Linked DNA regions of Homo sapiens: regions 1 and 2 are each linked to region 3. Evidence: fine-mapped expression QTL. A gene starts in region 3. Each other region holds a variant in brackets. All regions are shown on one strand. Distances are from middle to middle. Region 1 overlaps CDC123 (cell division cycle 123). Region 2 has its middle 70 kb from the start of CDC123. Region 3 holds the start of NUDT5 (nudix hydrolase 5).

Region 1 (5,000 bases), 48 kb after region 3:
TTTTCTGGCTTTTGAATTTCAGCCATCATTTTAAAAAATACTTCCCCATGGTTTTTGTCCAGTTCTTTTGTAACTTCTTGTTCTCCATTTCAATATTGGATGTTTGGCTTTTGTTCCTTTGCGTGTTTGGTATGCGATATGGATCCCCCTTAGTCTTTTTGTCTAGCATCAATATATTTATTTTATACTGTCCTTCAGATTGATGATGATTTCCAGAGTTCTTGGGGCTTTAATGCCTGTTGCGTTTACAGACTCTCATCCGGGTTGGTTGTTTCTTTTTTGTTTTGTAAATCAGTTTATTTATTTACTTTGAGTTCATCTTCAGTGAGCTTGTTCTTTTTGTTTGTTCTTTTGTTTGTGAGAATCCCAAAGATCCAAAATTTTGGGTTTTTCATTTGCTTCTACCATGTTCCTCAAAACTCATTCAGAGAAGAACAGTCATTGTGTCCTGCCCTGTCATTAGAACTGTCTCCTCACACTCCCTTTCCTGAGACTGTCGCCTTCTGGAGTTTGTGTCTGAGTTCTGATTCCCTTCCTGTGGCCAGGCTGCTAGGAGACCCTCCCACGGGTTCCCACAGCACTAGAGTTGATAGGCTTAGTTCTGTTCTTCGGGTTCTTGTTTCTGGCCCCGGGGGATTTCCCGGTCTTTCTCATAATCTCAATTACACTTTTAAACGGCTTGTCGTAGCATGTGTTTCATCCTGTTTGGAACAGCAAGCCTTGAGAGTTACATAGCTGGCTGTATTTCAGGAGCCCTCACATATCTCACACTCCAGCCAAAATAACCTATTCCCGCAACAGGCGGTCGTGGCGTGGCCTCTGTACGTGAGAGCCGTCGTTCTTGTTAAGTGGTCCGCTTTTCCTGCCAACACCACCCTCCTCCCAGGGCATCTCTGTTATCCCTCAGGTGCCCAGGTCCTTTGGGAAGCATTTCCAGCCTTCCCTCGCACATGTAGGCAGGCTCTCCTGTGTGCCTCTCCGCTCTCACAGTTCCCTGTTCTTGCCTCTCTTGAAGCAAAATACCCTGCACATTGCCATTGTTGGATGGCTTTTGGTTCTGTTTTGGGGAAGTGGAGATGTGTGTTCTGCTCAAGCCTGAGCTCTTGGAAGGAGTCGATTTTGTGTTACGATCTTCATGCCCAGTGCCTAACACAGTGTCTGGTCCCTAGAGCTTGATCGGGGCAGGGAGACAGTCAGCTGGTACAAGGACAGTTAGTCCGACTGCTCTTTGCTTATTGGATTGCCTCAAAGCAGAATTAACTTCTCAGGCTGTTTGTGCTTGAGATGTCACATGAAAACATGTTATGGCCGGGCGTGGTGGCTCACACCTGTAATCTCAGCACTTTAGGAGGCTGAGGCAGGCAGGTCACCTGAGATCAGGAGCTCAAGACCAGCCTGGCCAACATGGTGAAACCCCGTCTCTACTAAAAATACAAAAGTTAGTCAGGCACAGTGGCAGGCGCCTGTAATCCCAGCTACTTGGGAGGCTGAGGCAGGAGAACCACTTGAGCCCAGGAGGAGGAGGTTGCAATGAGCTGAGATCGCGCGACTGTACTCCAGCCTGGGCAACAGGGCGAGACTCTGTCTCAAAAAAAAAAAGTTATAAAATCCTGATCCTGATCCTCCTAGTTTATAGAAGTTACAGCTGGGTTTTTTTTAATTTACTTAAACTCTTTTTTTTTGTACTAGAGGATAGCTTCTGAGCTACAGAGTACACTACCAATTAACAGTGGTGGTTTGTTTTCATTTAAAAATGTGTTTTGGGCTGGGTACAGTGGCTCACGCCTGTAATCTCAGCACTTTGGGAGGCCTAGGCGGGCAGATCACCTGAGTTTAAGAATTGGAGACCAGCCTGACCAACATGGTGACACCCCATCTCTACCAAAAATAGAAAATTAGCCAGGCGTGGTGGTGCATACCTGTAGTCCCAGCTACTTAGGAGGTGGAGGCAGGAGAATTGCATGAACCCAGGAAGGGGAAGTTGCAGTGAGCCGAGATCTCACCATTGCACTCCTGCCTGGGCAACAAGAGTGAAAAAAAAAAAAGGAAAAAATGTGGTTTGGTTTTTTGCATTGTGGCATATTCCTATATTAAAAGTGTGATTGTTTAAAAAAAAATGAGTTAGTTTTACTGACTATAAAAAGCCAAGTAGAGGCTGGGCACAGAGGGTCACGCCTGTAATCCCAACACTTTGGGAGGCTGAGGCAGGCAGATCACGAGGTCAGGAGATCGAGACCATCCTGACACAGTGAAACCCTGTCTCTACTAAAAATACAAAAAATTAGCTGGGCGTGATGGCGGACGCCTGTAGTCCCAGCTACTTGGGAGGCTGAGGCAGGAGAATCACTTGAACTCGGGAGGCGGAGGTTGTAGTGAGCAGAGATCGCACCACTGCACTCCAGCCTGAGTGACAGAGCGAGACTCCATCTCAAAAAAAAAAAAAAAGAAAGTCAAGTAGAAAAGATTTGGAGGTTAGAAAATGTCCATTTTGTATCATGACATATATTGAAGACATCTTAGCAGTATTCTCCAAAATAAAGTTGACATCATTACCAAGAAGTTGTTTGACGGCTGATACTGTTTCACATAGTTCCAGGAATGAAGAAGTGGGTGCCAAATGGAGGTGAGGAAACAACTCAAGCGGTGAGAAATTTGCAGGGCCTCTCCTGGGGCTTGTATAAAATGAGGAACTTACC[TA/T]AATGGGTTGTGCTGAAAACATCCTGCGAAAACATCCTGCGACAGGCCTGTGCCACTTAACTGGAGGTTCTGGTATTTGAAGCAAGTCCTAATTAGATGTTGCATCTTTCTTAACAGTTTGCTCTCGCTCAGCTGAGAAACAGTGCCAGATATTAGGCATGCTGGCTCAGCGGTCTTGTTGCTTGGAATTTCACAGACACACACCCGCTCAGGACATGGCGGCAACACATTTATAGAAAAAAACAAATTCATTATTAACCAGATGGCACAAATATATGAATGTTTCAGTGAGAAAAGTGAAAAGGAGCAAAGATAAACCTTTCGAGGAAACATCCATCCACTTCGTGTCAATAGGTGTTCGTGATCGGATGCCGTGGCCGTCATTCCTGGCGGCGCAGCCCCTGTGCCCCCGCTCTGTGCGTGTCAGCACTGGCTGTTTTCTGCTCAGAGGCCCCAGCCCTACCTCAGCACAGTGCCCCCAGCTCAAAGGTGACCTTTCCCTGAGGAGAGTCACCAAATTGCCCACCTGTGGTTTCAGAACAGGACAAGGTAGACATTTCTTTCAGAGGTTGGGGTGGTTTTTTTTTTTTCTTTTTTCTTTTTTTTTTTTTTTTACGTCCCCTTCATATGCTGTCAAGCTCTATTGTACAGACGGAACACTTACCACATTCACATAGAAAGAAAACAGCATCTTCAGGCTGGGCACGGTGGCTCATGGGGAGGCCAAGGTGGGAGGACATTTGAGGTTAGGAGTTCGAGACCAGCCTGGCCAACATGGTAAGACCCTGTCTCTAGTAAAAATGCAAAAATTAGCCAAGCATACTGGCGCATGCCTGTAATCCCAGCTACTCGGGAGGCTGAGGCAGGAGAATCGCTTGAACCTAGGAGGCGGAGGTTGCAGTGAGCCGAGATCGCACCATTGTACTCCATCCTGGGCAACAGAGTGAGACTCTCACAAAAAACAAAAAACAAACAAAAACCACAGAAAAAAACCCAGCATCTTCATCCTTGCATATGGTAAAAAAATCCACCCTTGGCAGCAGCCTTTCCCGAGTCAGAAGCGCTGCTCTCTGGAGTCGCAGGCACTGCCTGGCTCCGTCCGGCTCCCCCTGAACAGAGCACTGAAGGCTCCGGGAAGACGCTTTGGTCAGACCGCAGACCCTTCGCCTTTGGGTGACAGTTCCCTTTCCTGCTGGAATCTTTTTTTCTTTTTTTTTTGGAGACCCGGTCTTGCTTTGTCACCCAGGATAGATGGAGTGTGGTGTTTTGATCACGGCTCACAGTAGCCTTGACCTCCTGGGCTCAAGCAATCCTCCTACCTCAGCCCCCTAAGTAGCTAGGACTACAGGCGTCTGCCACCGCAATCAGCTAATTTTTATATTTTTTTGTAGAGATGGGGTTTCACCATGTTGCCCAGGCTGGTCTTGAACTCCTAAGCTCAAGTGGTCTGTCCGCCTCAGCCTCCCAAAGTGCTGGGATTACAGGTGTGAGCCACCATGCCCGGCCCTGCTGGAATCTTTGACTTAAAGTTCCACTGTGGCTTGAGGCTGGAGTTGGAACGTTATCTCTTAGGCAGAGCTTTACTGGGTCCCTTCTCTCTTCATTCACAGGGGGCCCTCCCTTTAGATCTCTGTCTATTCAGACAGGCGGCCCTTTCTCAGATGGGATATAGACAGATGATCTTTTGAAATAAGTGAGAAGATTTTTAAGATTAGAATAATATGAAGAATATCTTTCTGGCCGGGCGACGTGGCTTATGTCTGTAATCCCAGCACTTTGGGAGGCTGAGGTGAGGGGATTGCTTGAACCCAAGAGTTCAAGACCAGCCTGGGCAACATGGCGAGACCCTGTCTCGAAGAAAATACAAAAATTAGCTGCATGTGGTGGTGCATGCCTGTAGTCCCAGGTACTGAGGAGGCTGAGGCAGGAGGATCCTTTGAGCCCAGGAGGTCGAGGCTGCAGTGAGCCGTGATCACACCAGTGCACTGCAGCCTGGGCAACAGCATGAGACCCTGTCTCAGAATAAAAAAGTGTTTCTTTCTCAGAAGACAGAGTACAGAAGATGTTTGTTTTTGTTTTTTCTCTCTCTGTGCTACAGGGGAAGGTGTGGCTCATTGACTTTAATCCATTTGGTGAAGTCACAGATTCACTGCTGTTCACCTGGGAAGAACTGATATCTGAGAACAACTTAAACGGCGATTTTAGTGAAGTTGACGCTCAAGAGCAGGTACAACATTTTTAAGACAGATACAATGTAAACCTTTCCAGTCTACTGACTGACTGCTTGTTCTTCAGACGCATAG
Region 2 (5,000 bases), 71 kb after region 3:
GGTGGGGGAAGTCGCAGTGAATATTTATTAACTGTTAGATCCAATGGAACATGTGTCATGGACTCTTTTTCAACTAAGAAGTGGAAGCTGAAGCTGTCTTTCTTTTTTGATTTTAAAATTTCACCTTTATGTTAGATTGGGAAGTACATGTGCAGGTTTGTGACAAGGGTATATTGCGGGATGCTGAGGTTTAGGGTGTGACTGAAGCCCTCATCCAGGTCGTGAGCACAGTAACCAACAGGTCGTTTTTCACGCCTTCCCCTCTCCCTCCCTCTCCCCTCTGGGAGTCCCCAGTGTCTTGTTCCCCTCCTTCCGCCCATGTGTACCCTATGTTTGGCTGCCACTTAATAAGTGAGAATATGCGGTATTTGGTTTTCCGTTTCTGCGTTAATTTGTTGAGCATAATGCTGTTTTCTTTTTTTTCTTTTAGACAGAGTTTCGCTCTTGTTGCCCAGGCTGAGTGCAGTGGTGCCATCTCAGTTCACTGCAACCTCCACCTCCCGGGTTCAAGCGATTCTCCTGCCTTAGCCTCCCGAGTAGCTGGGATTACAGGCGTGTGCCACCACGCCTGGCTAATTTTTGTATTTTTAGTTGAGATGGGGTTTCATCATATTGGTCAGGCTGGTCTCGAACTCCTGACCTCAGGTGATCCACCTGCCTCGGCCTCCCAAAGTGCTGGGATTACAGGCGTGAGCCACCGCGCCTGGCCATGCTGTTTTCTTAAACTAATCAAAAATAGTCTAAATACTGTACTTCACAGAATTTGTAAGGCTGGAAGAATCGGCCTGTGGCTGCTTCCAGCCTGGGAAAGGGATGGGCCACAAGATGGCGCCGCGCGTGCGGCGGTGAAGGCCGAGGCCGCCAGTGCCAGGTGGATGCCCGCCCTCCCCCAGGCCCTCAGGCCACGAGCAGGGGCGGGGGCACGGCTCACGATGTCATTTACACCGAGACAAAAGCCTAAATTGCTCCCTGTGCTTTCAGTGACCTAGGCCTTCCTCTCGTATTCTCTTTCTCTCGTATTCTCAAGTGTTTCTAGAAATGTGCTCTGGAGACATCCCCAAGCCAGTAGCTCCTCCCTCATTCTGAGAAGGCGGTTTAGTGCAGCTGGTCTCTGAAGGCATTGGGTGTTTTCCCCTCAGCTCCCGAGGGACAGCGTGGGAGGGTGGTGCTCTGGGCCTTCTCTCTACCATGCTTTGTTGTTGTTGATTTGTTTAAGCGCCAAACACTGAGTTTCCTTAATGTACCTGTGGGAAGATCAGTGGCAGAACTAGCAGAGGCTGTGTCCGGGCGCGGTGGCTCGCGCCTGTAATCCCAGCTACTGGGGAGGCTGAGGCAGGAGAATCGCTTGAGCCTGGGAGGTGGAGGTTGCAGTGAGCCGAGATCACACCACTACACTCCAGCATGGGTGACAGAGCGAGACTCCATCTCAAAAAAAAAAAAAAAAAAAAAAAAAAAAAAAAAAAGAACTAGCAACAAGCAAAGGCTGTGTTGCTTATGATACTTATTCCTGACAAAGGAAGGATGAACCTGAACTCTTAAATCTAAGGTGTTACCGGAAAGGGGTCCCGATCTAGACCCCAAGAGACCCTCGCACAAGAAGGAATTCAGGGCGAGTCCATAGAGTAAAGTGAAAGGAAGTTTATTAAGAAAGTAGAGAAATAAAAGAATGGCTACTCCATAGATAGAGTAGCGCAGGGGGCTGCTGGTTGTCCATTTTTATGGTTATTTCTGGATGATACGCTAAACAAGCGGTGGATTATTCATGCCTCCCCTTTTTAGACCATACAGGGTAATTCCTGATGTGGCCTTGGCATTTGTAAACTGTCATAGCGCTGGTGGGAGTGTAGCAGTGAGGACCACCAGAGGACACTGTCCTCGCCATGTTGGTTTTGGCCACTGTTTTACTGCAACCTGTTTTATCAGCAAGGTCTTTATGACCTGTGTTTTGTGCGGATCTCCTATCTTATCCTGTGACTTAGAATGCCTTAACCATCTGGGAATGCAGCCCAGTAGGTCTCAGCCTTATTTTACCCAGCTCCTGTTTAAGATGGAGTTGCTCTGGTTCAAACGCCTCTGACAAAGGGACAGTCATTTCACCTCACACATGAAAGCAAACCTAAAATTTTCTCTATTGGAAGTTCAATCTTGGCTAAGGGCATGATTTAGAAATCAAAGGAGTCTGACCTTCACGTGGTTTTGAACACTTGTGGAAAGGTAGCTGTGGGAAGGGACGTAGCCTTTGTAATGCAAGAGGAGAGAATGGGGTGTGGGGCGTGTGGCCCAGAAATGACACAGAACTCTGACAGCACTGCCCGGTTGCCATGTAGCTAGGTAAATATTTGCAAAGCACCTACTGCTTCTCCGGACTCGGGGCAAGTGT[C/T]TACTGGGCATGAAACCATCTCCGTGGGGAAGTGAGCCTTACCCAGTTCTTATCTCCCTCTTGAGGCCAAGTTCACAGAATATGACACAACTTCCAGAGGAAAGGGGGGCCTGCCAGTTCTTATCTTCCTCTCTCAGCTGGCATTGGGACATTTTAGTGGCCAGGACCAATGTGTTATCTGTAGGAGCCCTGAAGAGAAGAGGTGGGCCCAGAGGCTTTTTTTTTTTTTTTTTTTTTTTTTTTTTGAGACAGAGTCTCGTTCTGTCGCCAGGCTGGAGTGCAGTGGTGCGATCTCGGCTCACTGCAAGCTCCGACTCCCTAGTTCAAGCGATTCTCCTGCCTCAGCCTCCCAAAGAGCTGGAATTACAGGCACACACCACCACACCTAGCTAATTTTTGTATTTTTAGTAGAGACAGCGTTTCACCATGTTGGCCAGGGTGGTCTCGCTCTCCTGACCTTGTGATCCGCCTGCCTCGGTCTCCCAAAGTGCTGGGATTACAGGTGTGAGCCACCGCGCCCGGCCAAGACTCGTCTTCTGGATATTAATTCCCGGAGCTGTCATTTCCTGAGAGCTCATGATCAAGAGGCATTGAGAGGTAGACCAGCTCGCTGTATAATTGTTAGCGGTGCCAATCTGTAAGGCACGCTACAGTGTCATGGAGCTGTAATGAGATGGAAAATCATATTTCTCAGAGGTCTTCTCAGGTAGACTATTCTTTTTTAAAAATTTCAAATACAATTTAAAAACAAGTGCATGTTTTAAAATGTCATTTACCAAATCAAAAGCCAAACTAATAGAAAAAAAAATTTGTAACAAATATGCCAGATCAAAGCTTAATATAGTTAACATACAAATAAAAGGACTTCAAAATTAAACAAAATAAGATTGGGTTAAGGATGTTATACAGGCAATTCATAAAGGAAAAAACACAAATATACAATAAATATATAAAAAGATGTTCAAGACAGAATAAAAAATGCATATTACACTGTTGTAGAATAATATTTTTATGTAACCAAGTGAGAAATATTTTTAAATGGCAATATAATTGGTGTAGAAATGTAATCCTATGTAATTCTGCAATATATATGTTCAAAAGGCTTTTTTTTTCTTTTTAGGAAAGGCCTCTATTATAGATTTGATTAAAAAATATATATATATAGCCTGGCGCGGTGGTCACGCCTGTAATCCCAGCACTTTGGGAGGCTGAGGCCAGCGGATCACGAGGTCAGGAGATCGAGACCATCCTGGCTATCACAGTGAAACCCCGTCTCTACTAAAAATACAAAAAAATTAGGCGGGCGTGGTGGCGGGTGCCTGTAGTCCCAGGTACTCGGGAGGCTGAGGCAGGAGAATGGCGTGAACCCGGGAGGCGGAGCTTGCAGTGAGCCGAGATCGCGCCACTGCACTCCAGCCTGGGCGACCGAGAGAGACTTAAATAAATAAATAAATATAGAACCATTTAGATTTTCTATTTTTGTGTATCTGTTTTGCCTTTTTTTTTTTTTAGACGGGGTCTCACTCTGTCGCCAGGCTGGAGTGCAGTGGCGCAATCTTGGCTCAAGGTAACCTCCGCCTCCCGGGTTCAAGCGATTCTCCTGCCTCAGCCTCCCGAGTAGCTGGGACTACAGGCACGTGCCACCACGCCCAGCTAATTTTTGTATTTTTAGTAGAGACGGGGTTTCACCCTGTTAGCCGGGATGGCCTCAATCTCTTGACCTTGTGATCTGCCTGCCTCGGCCTCCCAAAGTGCTGGGATTACAGGTATGAGCCACCACACCCAGCCTTTTTTTTTTTTTTTTGAGACGGAGTCTCGCTCTGTCTCCCAGGCTGGAGTGCGGTGGCGCAATCTCAGCTCACTGCAAGCTCCGCCTCCCAGGTTCACGGCATTCTCCCGCCTCAACCTCTGGAGTAGCTGGGACTACGGGCACCCACCACCAGGACCGGCTAATTTTTTTTTTTTTTTTTTTTTTTTTTGTATTTTCAGTAGAGACGGGGTTTTCACCATTCACAGGATGGTCTAAATCTCCTGACCTTGTGATCCGCCCACCTCGGCCTCCCAAAGTGCTAGGATTACAGGGGTAAGCCACCGCACCTGGCCTTTTTTTTTTTTTTTTTTTTTTAGATTGTGTCTCACTCACTCTGTTGCTCAGGCTGGAGTGGAGTGGCATGATGTCAGTTCACTTGCAACCTCTGCCTCCGAGGTTCAAGCAATTCCCCTGCCTGAGCCTCCCAAGTAGCTGCGATTACAGGCATGCACCACCATGCCTAGCTAATTTTGTATTTTTAGTAGAGATGGGATTTCACCATGTTGGCCAGGGTGGTCTCTAACTCCTGACCTCAGGTGATCTGCCAGCCTCGGCCTCCCAAAGTGCTGGGATTACAGGCGTGAGCCACCGTGCCTGGCCTGTTTTGCAAGTTTTTAAAATTAAATATATATTTTCAAAAACTCAAGTCCAAAAGACTGGTCTCTTGGGTCTCTCCTCCTTTTCCAGCAATTGTGGATATAGGAATTACCCTGACCTGATCACTGTACATTATGTATATTGCAACATCACTATCTACCCTGTAAATATGTACAGCTATTATCTGTCAATTAAAATGTGTGTGTGCGTGTG
Region 3 (5,000 bases):
TGGCAGTTGGGTGGGCAGGGAGTAATTAACGTTTACTGAAATTATGCTACTTGGTGATCTCCAGGAATCATTTAGCAGGTGGTTTAAAATCCTCACATTTAATGCTGGTTGAGCAAGAGTGAACTGACTGTAATGACCCTTGGGAAGGTGAATTGGTTACAGACGTATAGTAACGACACTGTAAAGATAGTCCAGGCAGGAGATGACAGGTCTGGAGTAGAGTGGTAGCCGTGGCAAAGTGACATTTAATTTCCACGAAGACAGTTTTAAGGGAGACTGGGACATCGGAAGAAAAAAGGGGTGATGCAGAGCTCAAATCTGTACACGCTTGTTTGAGGTGATAGCAGACATCCAGATGAAGAAAACCAGCAGACAGGTGAAAATCTTAATCTAGGATGATTAGTCATGCTATGGATTCAGAGAAAGAAATGTGTTTTTTCATTACTTCATTAGGAATTGCACAATAAATCTCCTCCCCCATAATCACATGACTACTGACTTTTCAGCATGCAGGAGAAAAAGCAAATATTTCCACTGTTGAAAGGTTTTATTGGAGAAACTTGATGAATACAATGACTTCATGGCTTAGTGAAGACAACCACGGTGGTTAAAATACAGTGAACCCTCATTTAGCTGTATCCATTCAAAGTATTTGAGCATCTCCTATGTATAATGTCAATTTATTTGATGCTGGTTAAATGTGTAACAAGTTACTTAAAACCAACTGTAATACCAAAAAGTCATTGAACACACTTCTAAAGTATACTGCCTGAATAAAAGGTATCTATAAAAATTCCTTCCCTGTAGTATCTATATATTTAAGCTTACAAACTTAGCTGCTTTTCTACACACAACTGCAATTCTATATTAAAGCTTTGCAACTGCCTTAATCTCTACACTCTTTTTTTTTTTTTTCCCGAGACGGAAAAAAAAGAGTCTCGCTCTGTTGCCAGGCTGGAGTGCAGTGGCGCGATCTCGGCTCATCGCAACCTCCGCCTCCCGGATTCAAGCGATTCTCCTGCCTCAGCCTCCCGAGTAGCTGGGACTACAGGCATGCGCCAACACGCCCGGCTAATTTTTGATATTTTAGTAGGGACGGGGTTTCGCCATGTTGGACAGGCTGGTCAAACTCCTGACCTCAGGTGATGCGCCCGCCTCGGCCTCCCAGAGTGCTGGGATCACAGGCATGAGGCACCGCGCCCGGCCTATGCTCAAATGTTTCTTGGGCTGTTAAAGTACTGCTCCTCGCAGAAGGGCTATGTTCCCGGGATCTATTCTCTTCCGTACATTCATTCCTATCTTCATTAGAAAACATCTGACCTAAATAAATCCCCCATCGATGCTAACATCTCCTTCCGCGCAATTTTTTACTTTCTAAGTCAAATCAAAACAATTATTTGAGCGACTGCTCCTGTCTGCCATTAAGTCTTTCTGGCACCACCCTCCAGACATATATACAATATTGCTTCTTTCCCTCAAATCAGAAAGGACTGCATAGTTCCGGATCAAGGCATAAATGATGAATCATGACTGTCCATCCCCACCAACATACTCTGCAACATTATAATCTATTTACCTCTGCTTTGAAAATGTATTCTTTAAAGCACTGCTTCCAACTAGCCACTTAGCCAGTAACATTTTTGAGAAAAACAAAACACAACCCAAAACAATGTATATATTCCTGGGGGGAAGAGTTTCTAACTCAAAATACGCAGATAATTGTTTATTATTCTAAGGAACACCCTTCTGAAGAGGCCTGCAGTCGGTGGGGCTGTTTCTAATTTAAAACTACTTAGGTGAACCAGGAAGAATGTACATTTAAGGAGATACTTTTAGACGCAGATGCCTCGCGCAAGCCTAAAGCTCGTGTGGTAAGCGACACGACTAGGGGTTAAAAGCGGCTGGTTGGTAGGCCCGGGGCCGTGGCTCACGCCTTGTAAACCCAGCACTTTGGGAGGCTGAGGCGGGCAGATCACCTAAGGTTAGGAGTTCGAGACCAGCCTGGCAAATATGGTGAAACGCCGTCTCTACTAAAAACACAAAAATTAGCCGGCGTAGTGGCGCGCGCGCGCTCTCAGCTACTCGAGAAGCTAAGGCAGGAGAATCACTTAAACCCAGGAGGCGGAGGTTGCAGTGAGCCAAGATTGCGCCACTGCACTCCAATCTGGGCACAGAGTGAGACTCCGTCTCAAATAAATAAATAAAAGCAGCTAGTTACTTCTCATTCTTTTAACGAAACAAACAAAACTGAACTTTGCTGGGTGACAGGAGTGAAGCAAAGGAAAAAACGATAGTACAAGTTCGATTCGAATTCTTCCAGTCTTATGATTCGATCATCGCAGGAATACTGATAAAAATCTGCGTTTTTTCCAGGTTGACAACTTTTGCGAGGCCAGACTAAACGAATTCAGCGCTCCAAGGAGACTCCTCTTTCCTCTGCTTTCTCACATTTACCTCTCGCCTTTTACCTCCCAAAGTCGAACCCTCCAGGATCGTACAGGCGGTATTCCCTCTACCAAGCATTCTACTCCTCTGCAGATGCTGCAATCTTTACACTGGAACTAACACTTAGCTGTGGTGTTCCCCGCTTTCTTTACTCGGAGTAGCCCAGGCTCTTCCTCTCCAATCCACAATTTCCCTCCAATCCCCAGTTTCCCTCTTGGGCGCCTGGACGCGTGCCCAGCCGCAGCCTGGGAGACACCGCGCGGCTGCACGCACCATGCAGATGTGGTCCCTTTCCCCTTCTTCTTCTCCTCCCCAAAGAGGTTTTGTGCTGTGACTGGCTTGCCCCGGTTACTTACTCCAAGGTGTAGGGGTGAAGAACGGAAGAGGACGAAATAACTAGCTGGAGGCAGCAGTGTCAGCCGATGCCGGTGCCACGGCTCGAAACACCGGCGCCTCTCGCGGTGCTAAAAGGATGGGCGCGCACCCTCCTTCCGGCATCCGTAGAACCCCCGCCTTTGACCTAGCTTCAGGAGATTACTTTCCGGGTCAGCGTGCGTTTAGGGCGAAGACGGAGTTGTAAACTTCTTAAAATTCCTCTCTCGACACTTCGGTAATTCCTCTTTCGAGACTAAAGCTCTTTTTGTATGCGTGTGTGTCAAGCGTATGCCCCGGGATTCTCCTCCGCTTCCTTTTCTCGGTCTTCCTTCTTGCTTTAGGGACCGGAAGAGTCCTTGAACCAAAATAGCTCGGCGGGCACTTCCGGGGCCGGCGCCCAGAGTTCCGGGAGGGTGCAGGCAGGAGAGGGAAAGGCAGCAGCGGCGGCAGCTGGAGGATGAAGAAGGAGCATGTGCTTCACTGCCAGTTCTCCGCGTGGTACCCGTTCTTCCGAGGCGTTACCATCAAGAGGTGAGATGGGAGGGGGTTCGCCCGGTCGACCGGCAAAAGGGAACTGCGACTTCTGAGCGAATCTTACTGCTATCCAAAAAAATGCAGGCCTTCTAGCGACTGCATGGGAGGGAGTGTGTCGAGAGGGAAGTACATCAGCAATTGTCTGCGTCCTGTTGCGAGCCAGCGAGTGTGCTGGCTAGGAGGGTCAGTTGTGGTTTTCAGTGAGGGTCGGAGGCGGGAGGAATAGTGGATTAACCTAGTTTAGGCTTGGGAGTTCACCACCACTACTTTTAGAATGGCCCCAGGCGCAAGGTGATCACTGCCTAAGTGCACTCGGAGAATTAATTGCTTTTCGCCATCACCCCAGAGGATGGAGATTGGGAAGGTGAAAGGATACGTAATTACAGTTAGATACGAGAACAAGTTCACAGATATGTCGTACAGCATGGAGGCTATAGTTAATGACGATATACGTATTCTTGAAAAACGGAGAGTGGATGTTAGTGTTCTCACCACAAAAATAACTATGTTAGGCAATGCATTTGTTAGCTAAATTTATTCCACAGTGTATATATACTTAAAAACATCAGGTAGGCGGCAAGTATTAATATATACAATTTCATCTCTCAGTTTTTTTAAAGGCGTTGATAGAAAATCTGGGCTTTGCACTTAACTGATTTTCTGAGCCAACATTTCAGTAATTGCTGATTCATTATATGATGGTTTCATTCAATAAAGATCGGATATGTACTTGAAAATGTGTAACTGGCTTAGAATGGTTAAAATGTATAAGAAAAGTTTCAAGTTCTTAAATAGTATTGGAATGTGTGGTAGAACCTTAGATTCATTGTACTTAACAATTTCGCTTGTTAGCTTTGTAAGAGTAAAATACTTAGGAAGGCTTATTTGTAATCAGCAAATAGACATATTAAGAAAGAAAATTGAGTGGTTTATGAATAGAATTTAAAATTTTAAAGAGACTTTTAAGTTGCAAAGTTTCGCTTGAAATTGTTTAAAATTTAGTAGATTTTCAAACGTAATAAGATTTGTTAGAAGAAATTAAAAGCCTGAAGAACTAGATTTTTTTTTTTTGAGACAGAGTTTTGTTCTGTCGCCCAAGCTGGAGTGCAGTGGCAGCGATCTTGGCTCACTGCAAGCTTCCCTTCCCGAGTTCACGCCATTCTCCTGCCTCAGCTTCCTGAGTAGCTGGGACTACAGGCGCCCGCCACCACCCCCGGCTAATTTTTTGTATTTTTAGTAGAGGCGGGGTTTTCACCGTGTTAGCCAGGATGGTCTCGATTGCCTGACCTCGTGATCCGCCCGCCTCGGCCTCCCAAAGTGCTGGGATTACAGGTGTGAGCCACCGCGCCCGGCCAGAACTAGATTTTTGAATGTGAAATTGTACCTTTGATAAATCAAATATTTATTTTTAAAACCGAAGTTTTTGCTCTGTCGCCCAAGCTGGAGTGCAGTGGCAGTGATCTTTTATTTATTTAAAAATAAATAAAAATACTTATTTTTAAAACCGAAGTAGCCCATGAATACTCTTTTTTGTGCAAAAAAACCATTTGTAATGTGCCAAAAAAAACTTCTTCCATAAATAAATGAGACATGTTATAAGTCATTGATGTTCTGTTAACTTCGGGAAAGCAGGCTGTAATCTTTTC

The links.
Region 1: its variant is fine-mapped to the expression of NUDT5 in whole blood (TOPMed, PIP above 0.99).
Region 2: its variant is fine-mapped to the expression of NUDT5 in whole blood (TOPMed, PIP above 0.99).

Annotation. Positions count from the first base shown.
Region 1 is chr10:12,241,354-12,246,353 of GRCh38, forward strand. CDC123 (cell division cycle 123) reads left to right here. Exons shown (of 13, transcript NM_006023.3): 11 at 4,796-4,924. Among named protein-coding and RNA genes, the nearest start is that of CDC123, 48 kb to the left of the region's middle. The variant TA/T (reference allele first, on the strand shown) is at 2,697.
Region 2 is chr10:12,263,515-12,268,514 of GRCh38, forward strand. No RefSeq gene overlaps it. Among named protein-coding and RNA genes, the nearest start is that of CDC123, 70 kb to the left of the region's middle. RefSeq lists silencers at 176-225, 796-855 and enhancers at 663-1,201, 1,076-1,175. The variant C/T (reference allele first, on the strand shown) is at 2,381.
Region 3 is chr10:12,192,969-12,197,968 of GRCh38, forward strand. It overlaps NUDT5 (nudix hydrolase 5), which reads right to left and starts at 2,923. Exons shown (of 10, transcript NM_014142.4): 1 at 2,802-2,923. CDC123 (cell division cycle 123) reads left to right here and starts at 3,220. Exons shown (of 13, transcript NM_006023.3): 1 at 3,220-3,351. The coding sequence starts at 3,278. RefSeq lists an enhancer at 2,967-3,236.